Homo sapiens: one gene and its partner. The protein of the gene in region 1 interacts with the protein of each later gene in a pairwise test. Each region holds a gene or a part of one and is shown on either strand. Other genes may lie near its edges.

Region 1 (3,822 bases):
ATTTGGTGAGAAAACGGTCCCTTCCCCATTGAACGATCTTGGCACACTCGATGAAAATCATTTGGCCATATATGCAAGCATTTCTTTCTGGGTTATTATATTTCATTAATTTCTATGTCCTCCTTTATGCCAGTACCACAGTGTATTGATTACTGGGGCTTTGTAGTAAATGCTGAAATCAGGAAGTGTGAGTCCTCCAGCTTCATTCTTCCTCTTCAAAGCTGTGTGTCTATTTAGAGTCATGAGATGCAATATAAATTTTAGGACAGATTTTTTTTTACTGCAAAAATGTCACTGAGATTCTGATAGGAATTTTATTGAATCTGCAGCTCACGTCAGGTAGCACTGTCCTCCTAACAATATTGAGTCTTCCAATTCATGAAAACAAAATGTCTTTCAATTTATTGATGTCATCTTTCATTTCTTTCAGCCATATTTTGTAGATTTCAGGTATAATCATTTTACCTCTTTGGTTAAACTCATTCCTAAATATTTTATTCTTTTTGATGTTAATATAAATTGAAATTTTTTTTCTTAATTTCCCTTCAGATTGTTCATGGTTAGTGTATTGAAATACAACTGATGTTTGAATGTTGATTTTGTATTGTGCAACATTACTGAATTTATTTATTAATTCTAATAGGTTTGTTCCATCTTTAGGATTTTCTACATATAAGTTCAAGTTATCTGTAAACAGAAATAATTTTACTCCTTCCTTCCAATTTTAACGTCTTTTTTTAAATTCTTGCCTAATTTTTCTGACTAGACCTTTCAATACTATGTTGAATAAAAGTGTCAAAAGCAGGCACCCTTGTCTTGTTCCTGCTCATACAGGGAAAGCTTTCAGTCTTTCTCCGTTGAGTATGATGTTAGCATTGGGTTTTTCACATATTGCCTTTACGTTGAGGTGGTTTCCTTCCCTTCTTAGAAAGTTTTTATTATGAAAAAATATTGAATTTCATCAAATGTTTTATTGATTCAATCTTATTACTGATTATAGTTCCATTCATATTTTTGTGTGTTTCTAGGGGTTTGTCTACTTCATCTAGGTTATCCAATTTATTGGCATACAATTATTTATAGTACTTTCATAATCATTAGTTTATTAGAATTGGTAGTAATCGCTTCATTTTTCTTTTTTCTTTTTTTTTTTTTTTTTTTGGTTGTTGTTGTTGAAGAGAGAGAGACAGGCTCTCACTCTGTAGGCCAGCCCAGGATGGAATACAGTGGTGTGATTATGGCTCACTGCAGCCTCAACCTCCTGGGCTCAAGTAATTCTCCTTCTTCAGCCTCCCAAGATGCTAGGACTACAGGTGCATGTCACCATGCGCAGCTAATTGGCTTTTTTATTTTTTTGTAGAGACAGGGTCTCCCCAGGTTACCTATGCTGGTCCAAACACCTGGTCTCAAGAAATCCTTCTGCTGTGACTTCCCAAAGTGCTAGGATTAAAACATGACCCACCATGCTCAGAGTCCATTTTCATTTCTGATTTTAGGAATTTTAAACTTTTCTCTTTTTTTCTTAGTCAATCTAGTTAATGGTTGTCAATTTTGTTGATTTTATTTTGAAGAATCAACTTTTGGTTTCATTAATTTCCTCTATTCTTTTTCCATTCTCCATTTTATTTATATCCACTCTAATCCTTATTTTTCCCTCATTCACTGTGCTTGGGTTTAGTTTGTTCTTCTTTCATATCCTGAAGTATTAAAGTAGGTTGTTGACCTGAGATCTTTCTTCTTTTTTAATGTAAGAGTTTACAGTTATAAATTTCTTGCACAAGACTCAATTTCTCTGAACCTCTGATACCTCACCTGAAAACTGCAATAAGAGTGCTTTCTTCATACCTTTCTTTTAAAGGTTTAATGCAGTCAATAAAACGAGATGCCACACACAGTGGAACCAATGTCAGCTGCTATATGACTACCATCATCATTAGCCTAGAGGTCAAATAGTCCTAGAATCAAATCTCAGATCCACCTGTCACTAGCCATATGACACCAGGAAAGTTTTACACCACTCTAAGCTTCTGTCTTTTCATCGGCAAAATGGAAATAATGTCTACCTCACAGGGTTATTGTGTGGATTAAATGAGATACAGGGAAAGTATTTAGCACAGGGCCTGGCACATAGGAAGTGCCCCTCAACAGTACCTTCCTTTTTCCATATATATATATATGGAAAAAGAGGTAACACATAAAACACTAGGACATGGTTACTGACTACTTGTGGGAGAGAAAGAAAAAAAGCTAAGTGCAAAGAATCAAGCCTGGTATGTTAGTTTTTACTGACTGAGATGCATCCAAGATGGGATTAGACATACAAGATAACTTATCAGGGAAGACACCTGTGAGGGAATGTGGGGCAGGCATGAAGGTAGTACGGGAGAACCCACAGACCACTATGCAGAGCTGATTCCTGTGAAAAAGAAAGAGAAAGAAGTTTTAGGTACCAATTCAATTATAAGAGTTTTTGCAAGGCTGATGGGGAATCCTCCAACCAGTCACCCATTAGAGTTAAAGAGAGCCTCAGAGAACTAGACTTGCTTTCACGCCCTTGCTGGGAGCCTGTAGGAAAGAAGCTTTCTGTGCAAAGGAGGTGGTGAATTTGAAATGCACTGACCTGGGCCTTCTGTCAATCAAGTCTCTGCCATGGAGACCTGGCAGGGTCTCATTCATGACTGCCACAACAGAGACACTGAGAAAAAGATGCAACCATGAAAAGGTGCAAAGGTGGCAAGTTCTAATGACATAGAAAATAGCAATCAGCCTTTCTCACATCTGAAAGCCTTCCAAATATCTGAGCACAGTAGAGAATTGACAGAGGACTGATCACCAACTGAGAAACAGGGTGAGAGGGAAAAAAAAACTGCAAGAATATAATCATCTCCTATCAATTTTCCAACAGAAATAACGTAGTCCTTGAAGAAACAATTATAGAGTACCTCATGTTACATGCTTGTTCCTGAGGCTCCCCCATGTAAAATAACATCATCTTCATTCCTTCTTTTCTTTTTTTTCCATGACAGCTCCTTCAGGAACAGGACATCTTCCTGGCCTTAATCCATTATAGCAGCCGTGATGTCATTTCTGTATTTCAGGAAGACTGGCAGGTATGATGACCTTTCCTCTTATCCTGGTTCCTGCAGGGCTAACTGCCATGCTTGGGAGAGGGAAAAGACTTATTTGCCTGTATCTGGGACTGGATCTCCTCCTTCCTCCACTAACTCCTGCTTCTCAGCACTAATTCCTGCAGTTCCCTTTCTCCCTGGCCTTTATGCTCCCTGTACCCCACTGTCTTTTAGACATAATTATCTCCAGCCTCTCTCTCTGCTCATTTGTTTCTCAGATTCAAATGAAAAACACAATTTCACATGGTGAAACCCTCTTCATTATTTTTAACATCTCTCAATAGTGTAATTCTCTCCATTCCCATAAAGCTCAACCACTTCTCAAAGTATTGCTTGACTTCTTGTCTCCAGACTTTGAAATCTTCCTTGCATATGACTGCCTCATTACCTTTCTAAAATCTAGTTAATTCACTTAATCAAGAATCTCCAGGGGTCTACTCTAGCCACTTTGATAAGTTCACATTTCTTCTATTTACTAAGCCTTCTCACTTCCTTTACCGCTACTTCCTAGTATAATTCCTCCATCCTAATTAGAACTGTCTTCCTACACACCCCTGTCCCTTCACCCATATAGATATAAAATTCTTAGTTCCAATGCTATGTCTGAAAACAGAGTGAAATCCCCTCTACCATCTGCACTGCAGACTTAACCACACCCTTCATCACAAGCAACATCTGACCTCGTGGAGAACTA
Region 2 (3,822 bases), on another chromosome or scaffold:
ATTTTCAAAGATAATCTATGATTAACAAGAAAGCCTGAAAATAAAGAAATAAATTCGTGGTCAGGCACAGTGGCTCACACCTGTAATCCCAGCACTTTGGGAGGCTGAGGCAGGCAGATCACTTGAGGTCAGGAGTTCGAGACCAGCCTGGCCAACACTGTGAAACCCCATCTATACTAAAACTAAAAAAATTAGGAGGGCGTGGTGGTGTGAGCCTGTAGTCCCCGCTACTCGGGAGGCTGAGGCAGGAGAATCGCTTGAACCCGTGAGGCGGAGGTTGCAATGAGACGAGATCGCGCCACTGCACTCCAGCCTGGGTAACAGAGCAAGACTCTGCCACCAAAAAAAATAAATAAATAATTAAATTCCCATGTCCTAGAATAGTGCATGGCATATAGTTGTTGAATGAAGAAATGAATGAACAAACGAACAAATAAATACCAACTCACCTGGGGTGTAAAAATGAATGTGTCTGAGAAACATGGTCACCTTCCTGCTTTATAACAGGATACCATGACTGTAATTCCATTCCTGATGGTGCATCTGTCTGCAGAAAAACATGGAAGGGAAACATTTATTGAAGTAAAACTGTGAAGGTTAATTTTATGTGTCAACCTGACTGGGCCACTGGGTAAAGACAACTAACATTATTTAAGAGTCATCATGCCACGCACAGTGGTTCACACCTGTATTCCCAGCACTTTGGGAGGCAGAGTGGGGAAGATTCCTTAAGCCGTGGAGTCAGCCTGGGCAACATAGGAAGACCCAGTCTCTTTAAAAAAAAAAAAAAAAAAATTAGCCAGTTGCAGTGGTGTACATCTGTGGTCCCAGCTACTTGGGAGACTGAGGTGGGAGAATCCCTTGAGCCCAGGAAGTTGAGGCTTGCAGTGAACCATGATTGAACCATGATTGCACCACTGCACTCTATCCTGGGCAAGAGTGAGACCCTGTCTCAAGAGTCATCTTCCAATAAGGCAGTCTTCCCTTGAAGAAGCCTGATTATCACCTGAAACTCAGAGACACCCACATGAACTATCCCATCACAAGAACAGTTTCAGTATGCATGCTAACATGGAGTACCAGAAATGACTGCATCAAATTTCATACTTACGAAATCTATTTTATTTATTTATTTTTTTTTTTTTTTTGAGATGGAGTCTCGCTCTGTCACCCAGGCTGGAGTGCAGTGGCGCGATCTTGGCTCACTGCAACCTCCACCTCCCGGGTTCAAGCGATTCTCTGCTTCAGTATCCTGAGTAGCTGGGATTACAGGCACCCACCACCACACCCAGCTAATTTTTTGTATTCTTAGTAGAGATTGGGTTTTGCCATGTTGGCCAGGCTGATCTCAAACTCCTGACCTCAGGTGATCCCTGCTCCTCAGCCTCCCAAAGTGCAGGGATTACAGGCATGAGCCACTGAGCCTGGCCAGAAATCCATTTTAAATAATAGAACTCTATAAAGGTATAGCACTGGAAAATTGATTCTTATTCCTGTACTACAATCGGCTAGACTATACCCTATCCCTACAGTATTTGTTAGCATATTAGCTAGATACCATTCTACAGCAATACTTTGCCAAATTAAATCCAAAACCACATAGTTTGCTAACACTTGTCATTAAACTATATTTCCTAATAAATATAAAAAGGATTTTTTAATACTTAAAGATGAGCTATAACTAAAAATAAAGAAAAATAAGGAGAAAGGTAACTGGTAACTTAATGAACATCTACGGGCTGAGAACTTTATACATCATTCTTAATTCTAACAAATATCCCCCATTAAATAGGTATCATTACCATTTTACAGATGAGAAAACAACTGACGTTCAGAAATTGAAGAGGGGCTCGGTTCAGTGGCTCACACCTGTAATTCCAGCACTGTGGGAGGCCGAGGTGGGTGGATCACCTGAGGTCAGGAGTTCGAGACCAGCATGGCCAACGTGGCAAAACCCCATCTCTATTAAAAACGCAAAACTTAACGAGGCATGGTGGTGCGCTCCTGTAATCCCAGCTACTCGGGAGGCTGAGACAGGAGAATCACTTGAACCCAGGAGATGGAGGGTGCAGTGAGCCAAGATCATGCCACTGCACTCCAGCCTGGGCAACAGAGCAAGAATCGTCTCAAAAAACAAAACAAAACAAAAAAAGAAATTGAAGAGAAAAAAAGAATAAATGATCTGTGGTTACTAACTTCTCCCTTATTTTGGTTTACTTTATTTACACTTTGTCCTCCCTTCATCCCCTACATATTTCCTATTATACGAAATTACCTTGCTTTTGTGGGAAAAGGATACTTAAAAGGGGGGGCAAGACTCACTGGTAAGGGAAAGGGGAAAGAAGGAAAGGAGAGCTGAAATGTGGCATGGTTAAGGTGACCAACAAAAATAGGAAGTTAACAGACAAACCCAGGAAACTGAGGGAGAATGCGATTAGGAACGAGTTAAACAAGGGAAAAAACAAAAAAGAGAGCTGGATATTTCTCTAAACCCTACCTTTAAGAGGTTCCATGGCCAGGCGCAGTGGCTCATGCCTGTAATCCTAGCATTTTGGGAGGCCGAGAAGGGTGGATCACCTGAGGTCAGGAGCAAGACCAGCCTGGCCAACATAGCGAAACCCAGTCTCTACTAAAAATACAAAAATTAGCTGGGCGTGGTGGTACGAGAAGGGTGGATCACCTGAGGTCAGGAGCAAGACCAGCCTGGCCAACACAGCGAAACCCAGTCTCTACTAAAAATACAAAAATTAGCTGGGCATGGTGGTACGCACTTGTAATCCCAGCTACTCGGGAGGCTGAGGCAGGAGACTCACTTGAACCCAGGAGGCGGAGGCTGCAGTAAGCCGAGATTGCACCACCGCACTCCAGCCTGGGCAACTGAGCCAGAATCCATCTCAAGATAAAAAAAATAAATAAATAAATAAATAAATAAATAAATAAAAGAAGCTCCAATTCTGGTCGGGTGCAGCAGCTCATGCCTGTAACTTTGGGAGGCTGAGGGAGGTGGATCACCTGAAGTCAGGAGTTTGAGACCAGCCTGGCCAACATGGAGAAACGCCGTTTCTACAAAAATTAGCTGGACATGGTGGTGAGTGCCTGTAATCCCACCTACTTGGGTGGCCGAGGCAGGAGAATCACTTGAATCCGGGAGGCAGAGGTTGCAGTGAGCTGAGTTCGCGCCACTGCACTCCAACCTGGGTGACAGAGCAAGACTTTGTCTCCAAAAAAAAAAAAAAAGAGAGAGAGAGAGAGTCCAATTCCCAATTCAACAAATTAGGAAAGTAGCAAAGCTGTTTTGCCTGATGTCCCAATATTCCAGTTTGGAACCAAGAAACTAAGGACTGCAAACAGATCTCTGGATGTTAAGCAGTAGTGATTAAAACAAAATCAACTCTAAACTATCCAAACTCTGGTTTGATTACTGAGATCCTACTAATGGAGGAAATCAATGAGAATGAAGAAACCTGGGAGAGATCTGACAAGTAACCCACTGCCCTCAACAAAACAGGCTGAAAACAGAAAGGAAACCGCTCTTAGAATATGTATCTTAAAATCTGATCAGTCAGGAGATGACTTAGGGCCAACTAAAGGACAAAAATAGGCAGGGCACAGTGGCTCACGCCTGTAATCCCAGCACTTTGGGAGGCCAAGGCAGGCAAATCACGAGGTCAGGAGTTCAAGGCCAGCCTGGCCAATATAGTGAAACCCTGTCTTACTAAAAATACAAAAATTAGCCAGGTGTGGTGGTACGCACCTGTAATCCTAGCTACTCAGGAGGCTGAGGCAGGAGAATCGCTTGAACCTGGGAGGTGGAGATTGCAG

The links.
Region 2: the proteins of PSG3 (region 1) and SKIL interact in a two-hybrid assay, tested with the Homo sapiens proteins (one large-scale study listed by BioGRID and IntAct).

What each region holds. Positions count from the first base shown.
Region 1 is NC_000019.10:42,723,230-42,727,051, reverse strand, and holds part of PSG3 (pregnancy-specific beta-1-glycoprotein 3 precursor), read left to right. Parts: intron 1-3,026; coding exon 3,027-3,070; 3' UTR 3,071-3,110; intron 3,111-3,822.
Region 2 is NC_000003.12:170,377,969-170,381,790, reverse strand, and holds part of SKIL (ski-like protein), read right to left. Parts: intron 548-3,822; coding exon 450-547; intron 1-449. UniProt on the Homo sapiens protein: May have regulatory role in cell division or differentiation in response to extracellular signals.